Linked DNA regions of Homo sapiens: region 2 is linked to region 1. The links come from fine-mapping of genetic effects on gene expression. A gene starts in region 1. The other region holds a variant in brackets. All regions are shown on one strand. Distances are from middle to middle. Region 1 holds the start of GRB10 (growth factor receptor bound protein 10). Region 2 overlaps GRB10 (growth factor receptor bound protein 10).

The links. PIP is the estimated chance that this variant, and not a neighbour inherited with it, causes the effect. A credible set is the group of variants that fine-mapping cannot tell apart.
Region 2: its variant is the best candidate, but not a certain one, in a credible set for the expression of GRB10 in whole blood (TOPMed, PIP 0.50).

The regions. Positions count from the first base shown.
Region 1 is chr7:50,780,963-50,785,345 of GRCh38, forward strand. GRB10 (growth factor receptor bound protein 10) reads right to left here and starts at 1,934. Exons shown (of 19, transcript NM_001350814.2): 1 at 1,462-1,934.
Region 2 is chr7:50,722,873-50,727,255 of GRCh38, forward strand. All of the region lies in intron 4 of GRB10 (growth factor receptor bound protein 10), which reads right to left. Among named protein-coding and RNA genes, the nearest start is that of GRB10, 58 kb to the right of the region's middle. RefSeq lists an enhancer at 3,467-3,636. The variant C/T (reference allele first, on the strand shown) is at 1,816.

The DNA of each region.
Region 1 (4,383 bases):
GATGGCTGGAGGAGCAACTGGTGATGGAAATCCTTAGGAGACACTAAAAATAACTCACATTTTAATCGACCAATCTGGAACTTCTCTCACCCCTTCATGCCAATCGTGCAATTACCATAACTCCATTCACCATGTTCCTCAGCAGTTAGTATGCACCATTCTCAGTCCTACAAGATAGTAACTATTATCCCTGATTCACAGGTCCAGGTACAACGGCAGGTAGCACAAGATGGGGAGGGGACTGAACCACACTGCACTCACACCCCACCCTACAATTAAAAACCGTCCTTCAGCGCGTGGCTGCCGAGCACCTCAAACTGAAACAAGTGTTCTTTACCACCTTTCTCTGGAGTGACAGAGAGAAAGAAAATCCCAGTAAGCCCTTCTGGCCCTGCCCACCACCTCCCCTGTTCCCACCCAGGCCAAAGGGGGAATGCGTGGGCCCTGCTCCCACCCCCGATGCTGACATCAAAGGAGCAGAGACACGCAGGAGACTCCAGGCAGCACCCGAGGCCCTGGCCGCCAGCACGTCATAATCCCTGCAGTCGCTGCCTTTCAGACTTAAAAAGAACAATGAGGAAAGACACCCACGCTTCCCCTCACTGGGCTAGGAAGGAGAGCTTTGCGGGTTTAGACTGCAGTCTCCCCCGCCCATAGCCACCTGTGTGCCGGCTCCGCAGACGAGGTCCCCCCAGCACCCTGGCAGGGACTGTACCATCAACAGACAAATGGCAGCCGACCAAGGAGGCGACTGGCGTGTGGAACAGGTGATCCGATTGTTTTTCTAAAGAGCAAGGGCTAGGACGTCCTACGTGTTCATATGCACAATTTTTTGAACTCCATCAAGAACACGAACCCCATGCCCACATCTTCACTGCTCAATTCACATTGTCTGATATGCACCTTCCAGGGAGAAAGAGGTTTTCATGGAGAAAGAGGCAACGTTGACTATACGTGTTTACTCAAAGCTTTTTTATACCGGACTATATGCCATCCAGGTTTAAGAGAATTCCAGGCAGGCTCTAGCATTATGTTTTTCACAGAAAAAGCCGGTGCAGTAGCCCGGATGCCCAGATCCACTCATTTCCCAAACCGGTTCCCACACCCGCTGCCCACCACCTGGCGAGGAAGGAGCGGGCGAGGTTCGCTCGAATCGTCGTCACGGGTTTCCGTGGGTACAGTTATTACTCGTTACATAATATTAAACAATTAAGATTAAAAATGGTTACATAATACTGTCCTATGGCTGGCGGCAACGAAGCTCGGGATCTCGGACTGCAGCGAGCCCGCGGCAGGCGGGCAGGGGGCCGCGCGGCAAGACCTCCCCGCCTCCCTCCCGGGCCCTGTCCGCCGCGGCCGGGGCCTCTGCAGCCTGCGCAGGCCGATCCGCCCGCCGCCCCGGCTCGCGCCCACCGCCCACCGCCCACCGCCCAGCGCCCGCGGCGGAGCCCACCTGAGTACCTGGAGAGCGGGCGGCAGCACTGGCCGCACGGGGTCGCTGCGTGTGCGCCGCCGGCCCGGGTAGGGCTTCGGGGCCCGGCCCCCGCAGTGCCCGGCGCGTGGACAGCGCTCCGCATGGACAGCGCTCGGAGCCGGGCCGGGCTGGTCCTCCACGGCTCCGCCCCGGCCAGGGGCCTGCGGCGCAGAAAACCGACCCGGGGCCTCGGGGCCACCGCGCGCCAGGCGAACGCGCTAGCACGAAAAGCGGGCCAACGCCGCCTCTGGGGACGCCATCCGGGCGAGGGTGGGATGCCGCGCCACCGCCCGAGCGTGCCCGGGGGCTCCCAGCGCCATCACCACGCAGGTGCCCGGGGGCCCCTCCGCGGAGCCGGCTGCCGCCCGGCTGCAATACTCAGCCTCCGAGGGACTGGGCGCTCCTGAGGAGCGGGAGGACGACGGAGCAGCGCCCGGTCCTGGAGCACAACAGGAATCCCAGGACCAAACCCATGTGACGCGGCCACGCCCCAACGCCCGGCGGGGGCCCTCTGCTGCCCAATCCCCGGATCCCTGGTTCTCATGGCAACCCTGAAGAACCCCTTGTTCCCTCCACTGCCTCCTCTCCTCCCCCACAGCCCCCCCGCCTGATGGGCAAGGACGCGCACACTGGCCACTCTGACGATGCCGAAAGCCCTCCATGTCTACCCGCTACGCCGCATTCGCAGACAGGCGGGGGACATCGCGGCCGCGGCAAGCTAGAGATGCCGCCTGCTCGAGCAACCTTCCACCTGCAGGGCCGGCCAGTTCTACTCTTCCAGGATCACTCTCGTCTCACCCTTCTCCCCAAAATGTCAGAGCAAGAACCAGGAAGGGAGAGGCTCTTTCTGGAAGCCACAGGCATAACGTTACTGAACAACGAGGACAAAGTAGGGTCCCATTTAAACTGAGAGTCAGCGAGGGAAAGAACAGATCCTATACATACCAAGCATCTGCTATGTGCTAGTCACTTCACACACACACACACCCCACACACACCTCACACACACACCACACACATCCCACCCACCCACTCACATACATACACACCACACACATACATACACACCACACACACACATACACCACACACACACATCACACATACTCCCCCACCCCCGCACACACATACACCACAGACATACACACGAGCCTGCAATGATGGAAGCAAAACAGAACGTTTGGAGATATTCACTGCCGTTTACAAGGCCACAGTAAGCAGTAAGCAGATTTTCTACTCCCCTCTAGCAGAGAACATGGTAGGAAAAGCTAGACATTGTAGACAGCAGTAAGAACCTAACAGTCAACAGTGGACAATGGATTCTGAAACTGAGATCCTATACTGCATTCACACACGTTAAGGGGCAGGGCGCTGGGAAAACCCCATCTCAGTCTGGGGTTCAAAGAGTGGAAAAGCTACCCTAGTCCAACTGCTCGGAGGCCAGGTCAGGCCCCTGAAGGTCACTGGAGGAGGAGGCTGGAAAAAGTGCAGATATGCACTCCAAAAGGAGAGGTTCCACGGTGGTCATGACCACAAAATTCCAATATGTTTAAGTCGATCAAACAAAAGCAGAGTTAAGGCTGGTTCTGAAAGCAGCCAAGAGCAGTTTTCAACACAACACAAAGGGTAACACAAGGCTTTCTTTTCTCACAGTCCGGGCTGACCACATATGGCCTGGCTACTGCAAGAAACATTGAAGGTGTTAGCGCTTTTGACTCTAACTGCGCACCCCTCAGAGAAGATGTCACATAGTGAACATCGCAAGGCACAGAATGGGAAATGGAAGCACAGAATCAAACCCTGAGATTCGGGGAGAAACCAAAGTGTGGAGAAATTATGTAACTTATCCAAAGTCCAGAGCAGGTTACTGACTGGGAGAACTTGGCTTTCCTTCCAGACTCCAGATATGAGACTTTTCTGCGGTCTGACACAGTGGCTTCTTCCACCTCTGCAGTCAACCCCACAAAGGTGGCTCGAGTGTTCCTCTGCCTCCCTGCCCAGCAGCTCCCAGCCTGGATGGTGAACTCCTTTGCCTGAACATCCCACGCACCCTGCCATCTCCTGGGCTAGAACAACAGGTTGTGCAGGACAGAGGGCTTCCCTGCCACACTCCCCTCTATTACAAAATGCCAGAGGTCCCAGTTCGAAGCAGCTGTTCCTGGATGTGGGAAGAGCAAGAGAGAAATGATCTAATGATGGACAAGGAATCTTGAAAAGCCAGACCTTCACTGAATGGCTGACAGGACACACATTTTGCTTTACTAGAACAAGAACAGAATCTTTGAAAAGGCATAAAAGCCAGTGGTCAAGAAGTAACTGACAGCAAAGGCAAAAGAGATGAAGGCTAAGCTGGAAAGTGGAGATGAAGCCTGATGATATACTCAGTGGAAGCCCAGAAAGTCTCAGGAATGAGAACTACCATTCACCTCTGGAAATGGGAAACGTAGAGTCCAAAACAAGAAGATTAATCGGAAGTGTCAGGAATAGCTGGGCCCCATTTCATCCCGGGTCCTCTCCCCAGCTCCATCAGCTAGGTGACTTCTTTTCTGGAAGCAGGGACACAGGTCTCTGGACCAGGATCAGCAGACACAGCCATGCCTTTAGTCCCAGAAAGATTTGGTGGATCACATGCTAGCTGCCATATGAATCCCACCACCATCCCCAGCAGCTCCTGGAGCAGCACCTCCAACAGAACTGAAAGAGGCTCCTGCAGAGCTGAGAAGAGACCCAAAAGCATGAGCCCCACAACAAGCAACCAGGCGTCCATCCACAGAGGCCACAGTTAAATGCTCACTCACACAGGGCTCCTGTCAGCTTCTGAGCAATGTCCTTTTGAAAGTGGGAAGACCCCAGACAGCTAAGCGAAGCCTCTAAGGTGAAAGATGTGGCCAAATTGCATGGGACAAACA
Region 2 (4,383 bases), 58 kb before region 1:
GCGCTCTCAGGATTAAGTTGTTTCTCTAGATGCCCTGGCACTCACCCCTCATACTGCACAAGCTACAAAGGCCACATTTACGCCTTAGAAAGCTGAAAAATCCATATAAGTACCCTGCAAATGCCAAGAACCTGACCTCAAAGACCAATTTAATTGGAATTAACACCTTCACAATGTCGAAAAATAAAATACATTTATATAAAATTTACTTTTCTTTTAGTGAAGTTCTGAAGGGACAAGTAAAGCAAAATATAACCTTATAGCTATTTTTTCACAATACCAAGTAGCTTTTTTTTCTTTAAAAAAAGAGAAAAGTTGCAGTGAAGCAATGATGTCCTTGGCAGTGAAGGACTCAAATTCCAACTCTGTGTCCACAGACAGAGGGGTCAGGTGTTTCCTTATTTAGAGTCATTAAACAACAGGTACAATTCTCCTTCCTCTATTACTTGGGTACATCCTTTAAGCCCCGGCTATGTCTTACACACTTCTGTATTCCCAGAATGGGCAACCACAAAGAAACTGCCAATCATTTCCTCATTGTCCAAAGAACGAAATGTTCTAATGTTGTTTGGTCCCATCTTACAAATTAGCTGGGTTTCAGCTGAGGTCTGGAAATGAAGGATGAACCCCTCAGCCAGTACCCCAGAGCCTGCTAAACCAGAGTCTGGGGGCAAAGGAAGACGATGAAGGGTTTTTAGCGATCCAGCCCCTTGGATCCCAGGAGCAAAGGCCCTGTTCAGGGTTCCAGCGAAGTGCCCCTGGTCAACTGGGATTTCCTAAGGCCCCACTAGTTGGGTGGTCCCTGGAGGCTCTCATTTCATAACAGTGCAGGTATAACTGTCAGCCTCACACGCCTGAAGCGGTACTGGGATTCAAACCTGGGGCCTGCATGCCTCCTGGGCTGGCTCACCTCCCGCTGGCCACATGACCCTCCAAAACGGTGTAGACTCTTGATGGAGAAAAGACTAGAACAGCTGCTCAAGGCAAACAGACATAGGAAGGTGGGAGGTAGGTCACACTGAGAGCTACAGAGGGACCCACAGGCACCCTCCAACCTTCACGCCCTAGTGCAGTGGCAAGGAGCTGGTTAAGGACGGTTAGCAAAAGCACAGCGGAGTCACATCAGGCCTATAGGGAAGAGTGGACAACACAGTGGGAGGGCACAGATGCTGTCCCCCATGATCCGCCACTGGCTGGAGGCAGTGGACTCGCACGTTCCAGCAGCGCCTGAGGAAATCTCACCATGCACAAATGACACACCAAGGCCACAATGGGTCATAAACGCAAAGCTTCAACTTTGCAAACTGGAGCTGCCAAGGACAGAAAAACCACAGGCATGACTGTGATATCCTGAGATAGCCAAGACTAGTGCTTCAGGAGCCACCTGCGGGGAAGAAGCAGTTTTTGCTGTCCCTGTCAACCTGTCAAGCACGGATACTTCACAACTCACATAGCAATGAATTGCCAGAAAGTAAAATAAAACAAAAATACGATACACACCCACATTTTTATTCTTAAGTTCAACATTCAAATTGCTATAAAATCTCTAAACACATTTTCTCAATGTCTCTACTTATCATGAACTGGAAATAAACACGACCTGGGACACAGCAGTGGGTGCATGAAGAGACCTTCCTTCAAAAAAGTCAACATTGTGCTACAATGAGGGATGGGAGGATGGGTCCTGAAGGGAGAGCGTGAGCCGCCCAGCTCTGAGCTGGTCAGTCTCATCTGAAGTGTTGATTAGTTCTGGTCCTTCCCCTTGAAGAGGGCTAGGCAAGACAGGAGAAAGGAAACAGGAAAAAGTGCCACAAA[C/T]CCCGACAAAGGAAGGATGCCTGAAGGAGCTGGGGGCTGGCTGGGTAATGACACATAACTTCAAACGCAGAGAGACGGAAGTGATTTGCTCTGCGTTACTGACAAGGCCAGAAGGGAGCACAGTCAATGTTACAGGAGGCCCATCTTCTGACCACAGATAAACAGCCTGTCCCTGAGGGTCATGAGTTCCCTTCCCTTTGGTAATCAAGTAATATGACTCTGTGCAAAGAAAACAGTTGAATCAAGGATTCATGCTCCAACCAGGTACGCCATGATGCCTTTCCAAGTCTGCGTGCGCTTGATACTGCCATCTCTCCTGGAAAAACACTCCCGGCAAGGTAGCTGTGCCTGCTGCCTGCTCTGCTGGTTACCTGCCTGCTGCCTGCCCTACCTGCTGTAATGGCGACTGATATGGTTTGCATTTGTATCCCCGCCCAAAATCTCATGTCCATCCCCAAGGTTGGAGGAGGAGCCTGGTGGTAGGTGACGGGATCACAGGGGCAGATGTCCCCCTTGCTATTCTCATGACAGTAAGTTGCCACGAGACCTGGTTGTTGGAAAGTGTGTAGCACCTCCCCTTTTGTGCTCTTTTCCTCCTGCTCCAGCCACGTAAGACTTGCCAGCTTCCCCTTTGCTTCTGCCATGATTTTAAGTTTCCTGAGGCCTTCCAGCCATGCTTCCTGTACAGGCTGCGGAACTATGAGTCAATTAAACCTCATTTCTTTATAAATTACCCAGTCCCAGGCAGTTCTTTATAAGCGGTGTGAGTGTGGACGAATACAGTGACACACACACAGCAGGTAAGTTTTGGTTTTTGTAGGTCTAGTAGAAACTTTGACACTTTACAACAGAAAAGGCAACCATCTGGTCTCATAAGTAAAACAAAAACAAAGACTTTGATAAGTGATTTCACAGTAGCTTCTGGGCAGATAGATGGCAAAGGGAAAGTTGATTACTAACATTGAACTTTCATGGGATGGAAAATTAAAAGAACACAAATATTTCTGTGGGGATTTAACCCCCATGATAAGTAGGAGGAAAACAGAAGTGGGATATAGGTATCCCTGATTAGATATGTCCTTCTAAAAGGCAGTGCAAAGTCATAGACCAATATTGTGTTCTGCTCCTCCACTGCTTATGAAATCTTATGAAAAAGATAATCAACTCTAGCACCCCCAATCAAATAGATATCTGCACAGCCAAGCACACGGTGCCAAGGAAAAACCAGACAGTGGAATGGTTAAGGACATAGGCTTCAGGCTTGACCCCGTACGCCTGATCCCTGATCTATCCCATTACAAGCTGTGTGACCTTGGGCAACTTACCAATATCTGCAAGCCCTGGTTTCCTGGAAAAAAGAAATAGAAAAAATAACACATCCAGAATATTTGCCACAGTACCAGAGAGAGGATAAAAATAACACAGGCTGGGTGCAGTGGCTCACCCCTATCTATAATCCCAGACCTTTGGGAGGCAGAGATGGGCAGACTACTTGAGACCAGAAGTTCAAGACCAGCCTGGCCAACATGGCGAAACCCCATCTCTGCTAAAAATACAAAAATTAGCCAGGTGTGATGGTGCATGCCTATAATTCCAGGTACTCGGGAGGCTGAGGCAGGACAATCGCTTGAACCCGGGAGGTGGGGGTTGCAGTGAGCTGAGATTGGGCCACTGCATTCCAGCCTAGGTGACAGAGTGAGACTCTGTCTCAAAAAAAACAAAAAACAAAAATAATACATAGAAAATATGTGATAAATATAGTTGTTTATATTATTCAAAAAAAATCAGACTTTAAGCCCATACTTGAGGATGATGATGTTTGAGAAGATTTAGGCATTAAAAAGAAAAGCACTGAGAATAAATATATACATATTTATGTATTTTTATTTCCATTTATTTACTTATCTGTCATATTTCATTGATTTTAAGACATGCCCCACTCCCCATTTTAACATTTTAAAAATGCAAACACCTTACGATCAGCACACATGACACATTTAGGGACAATACATAATAATCTTTATTTCAACTGAAAAGCTGTTGTTAAAACTGACTTATGGCATTTCATGATCAAAGAAATTCAATAAGTCCAAAATTGCAGGATACAAATTCTATGTTTTATTATAATAATTCTGAGGAGGAGATTTTGGCATTTGGACAAAAACTTGTTCTCCTCAGTCTCACCAACATTAAACATAAACACACTTCACAGAGACGAATGTACCTCTGTTACTCAGTAGGAGAGATGGTCTTTTTCTGCTTTGATAATCTCATCTGCAAAGGGGAGAACATGAAGGTCCCCACCGCGTAGCATTGGCAGGAGAGAAAATCCAAGTAAAGTCCTCAGCATGATGACCAGCATATAGTAAAAACCTCAGTTTTCTCATTTATAAAATGGGTATCATGAAGGTACCCAATTCACAGAGTCGGTGGAAGGCTGAAGACAAGGGAAGTAAACAGGAAGAGCTTAATCTTTTCCCCACTGCCAGCCTCTGAGTGGTCAGCTTGCAGGCTGTCGAATATGTTAGTTTTACAGTTCTAGCAGGAAATGACATGGGATGGGGGATT